Linked DNA regions of Homo sapiens. The protein of the gene in region 2 interacts with the protein of the main gene of each other region in a pairwise test. Each region holds a gene or a part of one and is shown on either strand. Other genes may lie near its edges.

Region 1 (3,748 bases), on a different chromosome or scaffold from region 2:
AGCCAATACCTTAACATACGAATCTTGGAGTGTAAACATTGTGAAGTTATTAGGAGAAAAGCTCTTTCGGTGAGGATATTCCACAGGAAAAACTCTACAGAATCAAATCTGGCATTTGGTTGTTCTAGAAGTTGTCGTTTCATTATAACGGGGAAAAAATTAAATAATTTTTATTTATTATAAAAAGAAGACTCTCCCCAAAGATTTACAATTGTATATCCCCATCTCCTCTCTGACAGAGATGTCAGTTCTCTGGGTCGAGACATAACCAGCTGCTGGGTTCACACACACAGGAAGCCACAGAGAAGATCGCGTTCAGAGCCTCGAAATAATACGCGTTAGTTAAGAACTGCCTGCTACTAAACCAAAATTATTCAAGCGGAGCCCCATTTGTCACAATCCAGTCATAAGGGTTCCACCACCCCCTCCCCCAACTGCTTGTGTAGTGGTATATCTGCTACGGTAAAGAAGCCATCATCAGGTAAAGATTGGGGTGGGAGAAAAGCGGGGAAAAGGGGGCACCCTTTCATCTAATTTCGTGAGGCGTGAGTAATTGGTACTGTTAAGAGGAACGTTCTATTTATCGGGGGTTGGAGTAGCATGAGGGGAGAATTTCGTTCAAATCAACATGGCCAGCAAGATGTCCCTACAAACAAAAGGCAATGGGGGGATATAAACACGAACCATTCACCTCCATCAGCTACAGCATCGCCATCATGGTGTGTGCAGAGACCCCCAAAGGCTCCTCTCACCCTCCACACCAGCTAAGGCAAAAGAAGGGAGAGAGGTAGCTGCATCCCCCCCTCCCAACACTGCTTCCAAAGACACACTCTTCGAGGGGGTTTCTCCCCTCGGCTGCCCGGAATCAGAGAGAAAGAGTAACGTCCCGCTCACTACCTCTCAGCCGAACCCCAACGCCGGCCCGGGGCTCGCTAAACTTTACCAGAGCTTCTCCCCCAGATCCCCACCCTATCGCCCCGGGATCGCGCTTCCCACAAGCGGGGCACCCCAGGCGCTTCCTGACAAGCGAGCAGCCGGGGAAAGCCGAGTCCGGGGCGGGGGCTACTGGGATCCACGGAGGGGCGGGGCGGCCGAAGCCAAGTTCCCGGGGGTCTGAGAAGAGCGCCTGACAGGAGCCCGGGACTGCAAAGGAGGAAGAGGAAGCGGCCACGGGGAGCTTTCCCAATCCCCCCTACGAGAGCACCCTGCCCCCAGCCCCAGCTCCCCATGGGGGGCAGGGAGGCTAACTGGAAGGTGAAAAAGCCGAGCCCATGAGACAGCTGCAGCCCCTACCTCCGGACTCCCTATCTCTTCCCCCGCCACCCCCGCCAGAGGCGCCCACAACAATAACACGCCGGGGACGACCCGTCAGCGCCCCCGAGGCACCCGGGGCCCGCGGCCCGCCGCAGGCGGGCCCCCTCTGCTGAGACCGGGCGCGCCTCTCTCCCTACAACTCCAGGCCCGGGTGGAGTCAGGCCCGAGAGGCCCCCCAGGGTCGGACCCATCCCCCCTGGCAGCAGCGGCGCCGTCTCCGCGGCCGAATATTAGAAGTGAATTCGAGCTGCGCTTTACCTTTAGTTCCGCACTGTCCGCCATCTTGCGTCTGTCAGCGCAAGCGCAGTGAACTTCGCCGGGGGCCGCCGCTAGACCCGCCCCTCTAGCCGGCCTGGCCCCGCCCCGGCCCGCCCCTCCACCTTCCCAGCCCGCCTCTAGCCTCCGCCCCGCTCAGGGCGCTCGAAGCCCCGCCCCGGGCACGTACAGCTGCGAGACAGGCACGTTCCATTTAAATAATGGCGCCAAGCGGCGAGGTTTGACAGTTACTGCCCCCTCGGTCTCCCTGCCCCCCATCCTAGCTCGGCCAGCTCCTCCCGGGAAGGGCCGGAGCGAGAGGGATGCTGGCCTGAGCCCCATCTCTCTGCGGTCCGCGGAACGCTTCTGCATAGCTTCGACGCCTACGGTCACAGAAACAATGCTGTCCCCCAACCCCCAATAAGCAAGGCTTTTTCAGCACCTGCTACCTGCGAGGCTACCAGTGGGCTAAAAATAGAAATCCATTACATTTAAGGGGCCCTTAATGAAGCATTTCTATCATTATTGGCTCAGATCCTCTTGATAACGAGGGGAGGTAGGCAAGGAAGAGATAATTCCCATGGTATAGATTCAGAAATGAAAGCTCAGAGAGGAAAAGTGACTTGCACAAACAAGTATTTTAACGAGGTGGCGTAAGACAAAATTTTGAAGGTGTTCATTAACATTTTTGTTTAAAAAAGTATTTATTTAGTGACCATCTGCTTGCCTTGTGCTAACGGCTAAATATACATTTTGAAATCAAAGTCCGTGCCCTTCTGTAGTTCTCTAATGGGGAATCAGAGAAGTGAACGAACAAAGATACAATTGCAAATGTTAGTGAGTACCAGAAAGGAGCAAAAGGTCATTGAGAGAGAGAAAGGGTTTGGGAGATGTACTTAATTCTGGGAGGGTTTTATCCACTAAATTGACATTTAAGTAGACTTGATGGAAGGATTATTTCATTCCTTTTCGTCTCTACTGAAAGCCTTCTATATACCTCCTCCCCAACCCCCACTTTTACTAATCAACTTTGCCTCATAACTCATGGAAAAAATGAAAGATATCAGAAATAAACTCCCTTATCTTCTCACCATCAAAACCACCCTTATCTGCATAGTAACATTTGGGTTGCTATGAATGAAGTGTCCCTGCGCCTAGGAAGGCCAGTCCCTTTACCAGTGACCGGATTTTTTTCACGCACATTCCTAAGGATTTTACTCTTACAATTACCTACCCTCCAGCATCGTTAGTTTTTTCCCTCTCAATTGAATTGCTCCTATCAGCATATAAATATATTGAAATTTCTCCCATCTAAAATAAACTTCCTTTGACTCCAAAATCGCCTCTAGGAACTGCCCTATTTTTCTGCTATCTTCATAAATTCTTAGAAAGGTTTTTCAAGATCTCTCCAATAGTGCTTGTTCCTACCTCTCACTTCACATTCACTTCTCAGTCTACCCTGATCGAGCTTTGGCTTCCATCATCTGTATCACTTATCAAGATTACTAATGATCTTGTTTCCAAAGGCAATTGCCAATTCTCTATCCATATCTCAATTGACCTCTCTGTAGAATCGCGAATAATTGACATGGTTCCTTTGATTTGAAACACTTTTCCCCCTGAACTTACCTACACGTCACAGATAGTCCTGTTCCCTCACTGGGCCTCCTTTTTGATATGCTGGTTTCTCCTCTTTGGCTCAATCTTTAAATGTTGGACTGCTCCAGGGCTCGGTCCTTGCATTCTTCTCTATTTTATCACCAGGTGATCTCATCTAACTGGTTGACTTGAAGTCTATATGCTCATGACTTTGAAAATGCTCTCTAGCCTAAACCTCTCCATTGTCAAGAAACAAAAGTAAAACAAATTGAGATTCAAGATCTCATTGGCATTATTGCACTCCTAGAATTGGACAAAACTTCATTCCACAAAATAGAATAAATGTTGCAATGAATCAAGCAGAGGATGTTAACTTTAGAGACAGAAAATAGACTGAAGAAGGCAGAAACAACAAAAAGCAGATTGGTTATATCAAAGTCACTTTTCTTTAAGGTGGAGACGTGGAGACAGAACAGTAGAAAGAAAACTGATTGGTTAACATTGGGTTACTTCAGGTATTCTATTTTAAGGATTAAAACAGGAAATTTCATTATCATGCCTGTTAAAGATTGAAACTTCT
Region 2 (3,748 bases):
GGCATCCTTTTGTTTTAAACTACATTATTTTATTAATACATCAGGCAACTCTATCCCACAAAACATTTGTAATGCTGGAAGTTATGCTTACTCTTTTAAGTACTTCAGAATATTATATATTCAACTTAATAATGAGATAGTGACAATTCGAAAGGGTTTCACTTCGTATACTATCAGTTCGCTGAGAACTAATAAAAAAGTGTGGTTTTTTGGGTCATCCCAAAAATCAAGTACACTTTGGGAAACAGGGAGTTAAAAATCTTTCGGAAGTTAACTTGGTATAAGAGTATGAAAAGCCTCTGTTGCTCTACTTCTGAGGAAATGCTCTCCTTTTTCCTAATAAAGCTTTCCACAGAAGACAAACTCTGTACACAAAAAACAAGGTAAGTATGGGAAATAATTGCTGCAATTCATTAACTCTCAAAAAAGTTATTCATTTTGACATGTAAGAGAAACTTTATTTATGAATGTGAAATGTGCTTCAAAGTGCTGATCTGTTAAAATTCCATAAAACAAGCTTCAAAATGCAAGTCATTTGTGCCAGCTACGAGTAAATAACTGAAGCAGCATTTCCAGAGAGACTAGGGCAAAGGACAGAACAAACTACAAATCAGCAGAAAAGAAACCAAGCATAGTAGAGTGTTAATAATTCACCATGGTTACTGCTCTTAAAACCAAAGCAACTAAACAACTGTCATCTGTTTACTTTTACGTGTGTTTTCATCATCTCTACACCGTCTGAAGTGTTCAGTGTACATGGATGTGGACAGACAGTCAAAGCCTACAGGAGCTTTTTTTTTCTATTAGAACAGTCATTTTAATGCATAGATTTGATGTGGTTATTTTGCTTTCTCTATCTCTGCATTATAAGCTCTTAAAGGAAGAACATTCAGTGGGTTTATTAAATATTAGGAAGCATTCATATTTTATTTTTCCACCATGTATTTGGTTTGTATGCATGTTTGTTTCCTGAGCACACTGTAATGGCTGTTTATGTGAATTCTGAAAGAGCAAAACTAGAACTGTGAAGAAGACCAAAAATAACAGAGAGGCACCCTATTGTCCTGTGAAAAACACTAGACTTGGGATGAGAAACATGGGTCTCAGGCCTAGGTTCTCCTACATCCCTGCAGAACCTTAACTGAGTTACTTAACCTCTCTTTCGTTTACCCCTGCAGTGGGGATGTCAACACCTAACCCACCCTATCGTATAAAATTAATGTATGAATAAACTGAGTGAAAGGACATTATAAATTAAACTCTGCAATTGTAATAAATTACTCTTATTGTACCCTCTATCAAACAACCTGGCGTTACTAGTACATGGTATTCCCAGTACTTGAACATATGTGACTTTCTGGGTGACTGAGCATGAAATCAAATCAGATTTGGCTCAGAGTCATTTCTCCAAAGGGATGTAATCATCTTAGTATTCTGGAAAATTTCCCCTAATAAGACCCCTTTTTGAGTAACACAGTCCAGTGGAGAGTCCCCGCTGACAGTGAATAAGGCTGTGTCTATGTAAGTTCACATGATGTGGTTAGCACATGCAGTGTGTCCCAAGACATTTTCAGGCATCACAAAAACTTGAAAAGTACTAACAGTTGTCTTTCCTTTGGTATTTAGGCAAAAAATGAGGAAGATTCATAAGTAAGTTAACACAGAATTACCAAAAACCTCATGAGAAAGAAATGAAGGGATGTTTCAGGGTAGCTTTTCGAGTCCCAAGTGATCATTGATTTGGCCCTTCTGTTTCTGATTGTGAAAAAGCATTCTGAAAGAATGGGCGCCGGTTCAAGAGGAGGTCTCTGAGGGTCAGCCTTTGGCTGTTTATAGAGGTGAGATTCAAATGCCCTCAGATCATGAAAAGTGCTTGAACTCATTTCAGAGAAGAAATGTTTTGAAATGCCCGTGGAAATACTGAGTGGGCCACTTTTTTATTTTGTGAAATTAGAAACGTATAAACTATTTTTATTATTACAGATAATTGTGAAAGCCTCACTGGATGACATCCTAGCTGAGGAAAAGAATGGAATTTTTGTATTAGTATGAAATGCTAATTTATTACTGTATTTAGATCTACTGACCATCTGAGGGAGTTAGAAGTTAAAGTAAACAGCTGTATCTCTAGTTGATCTTTGCATATTTTAATCCAAATATGGCAAAGGGCAGGGCTAAAGAAGGGAGTGTCCATAAACGGGGCTCAGAACTTGTAACAGAAAATTAAAATATACTCCACTCAAGGGAATTCTGTACTTTGCCCTTTGGGTAAAGTCTCATTTACATTTCTAAACCTTTCTTAAGAAAATCGAATTTCCTTTGATCTCTCTTCTGAATTGCAGAAATCAGATAAAAACTACTTGGTGAAATGACTTCTTGTCACATTGCTGAAGAACATATACAAAAGGTTGCTATCTTTGGAGGAACCCATGGGAATGAGCTAACCGGAGTATTTCTGGTTAAGCATTGGCTAGAGAATGGCGCTGAGATTCAGAGAACAGGGCTGGAGGTAAAACCATTTATTACTAACCCCAGAGCAGTGAAGAAGTGTACCAGATATATTGACTGTGACCTGAATCGCATTTTTGACCTTGAAAATCTTGGGTAAGACTATGCTTTGTATTGTATATGTATGTATGTTGTGTGAAAAGTGGTAGGTGTGTGAAAGAGAACACATATATGTATATGCAGATGATAATTCATGTCCGTACATGCAGTCGTATGTTGAATAAGATCACTTTCACTTTTAATTATACTGCATTGTGAATTGCACAATTATCTAAACTGGGCATTCACATGCTCTTTTATAAACCTTCTTAAGCACCAGATTATTAAGTTTTCTTTTCAAATGTATACAGACTGAGACAATAAATAGAAAAGGGTTTTGTTTTAAAATCATACCTTTAAAGAAACAGATTTAATACTCCTTTGCATTGAGTTAGTGTTTGGCCACTATGCTTGCATATAAAATTGTTAGCTTTTTAGGAAATTCACTACGTTTTCAAGCAACTATGCTTACGGTAATGCATAAAGTTCTAGTTCAAAAAATGTAATGTTTCAAGTAATATTTGTTGAATGAAAGCGTGATTAAATATCTTTTGTCAGAAGACATCAGACACTTTGGGAGGCCGAGGCAGGCGGATCACGAGGTCAGGAGATCGAGACCATCCTGGCTAATGCAGTGAAACCCCATCTCTACTAAAAATACAAAAAATTAGCCGGGCGTAGTGGCGGGTGCCTGTAGTCCCAGCTACTTGGGAGGCTGAGGCAGGAGAATGGCGTGAACCCGGGAGGCGGAGCTTGCAGTGAGCCAAGATTGTGCCACTGCACTCCAGCCTGGGAGACAGAGCAAGACTCCGTCTCAAAAAAATAAATAAATAAATAAAAATAAAGACATCAGACCTCCCTGTGATCCGAAGTAGCAGACGTACTTAACTTCCATGGTGGATTGTTGTAGATGGGATACCAGAGATGAGAACTAAAGACACCATCTGAATTTTCAGAGCTTATATTTTGCTGATTTGTAATATATTGCATACAACGTAAGCAGTCATAACATGCTAGGTTAGGTCCTTATTAATTATTTTTGCCTTCGTTTACATCATAATAGCTACCACTGTGGATATAATATGACTCCACATATTTGCTTTTTACCACTTCTTTCTTTCTTTCTCTTTTTGAGATGGAGTTTCGCTCTTGTTGCCCAGTCTGGAGTGCAATGGTGCAATCTCAGCTCACTGCAGCCTCC

Evidence for each region. Proteins that work in one complex are often made in the same cells at the same time.
Region 1: the proteins of ASPA (region 2) and PIAS1 interact in binary tests that used the Homo sapiens proteins (3 or more experiments, as listed by UniProt).

What each region holds. Positions count from the first base shown.
Region 1 is NC_000015.10:68,052,175-68,055,922, reverse strand, and holds the start of PIAS1 (E3 SUMO-protein ligase PIAS1), read right to left. Parts: upstream 1,609-3,748; 5' UTR 1,597-1,608; coding exon 1,573-1,596; exon of another isoform or gene 698-1,572; coding exon of another isoform or gene 692-697; exon of another isoform or gene 688-691; coding exon of another isoform or gene 685-687; exon of another isoform or gene 40-684; coding exon of another isoform or gene 10-39; intron 1-9. UniProt on the Homo sapiens protein: Functions as an E3-type small ubiquitin-like modifier (SUMO) ligase, stabilizing the interaction between UBE2I and the substrate, and as a SUMO-tethering factor. Catalyzes sumoylation of various proteins, such as CEBPB, MRE11, MTA1, PTK2 and PML.
Region 2 is NC_000017.11:3,473,792-3,477,539, forward strand, and holds the start of ASPA (aspartoacylase), read left to right. Parts: upstream 1-2,205; 5' UTR 2,206-2,368; coding exon 2,369-2,604; intron 2,605-3,748.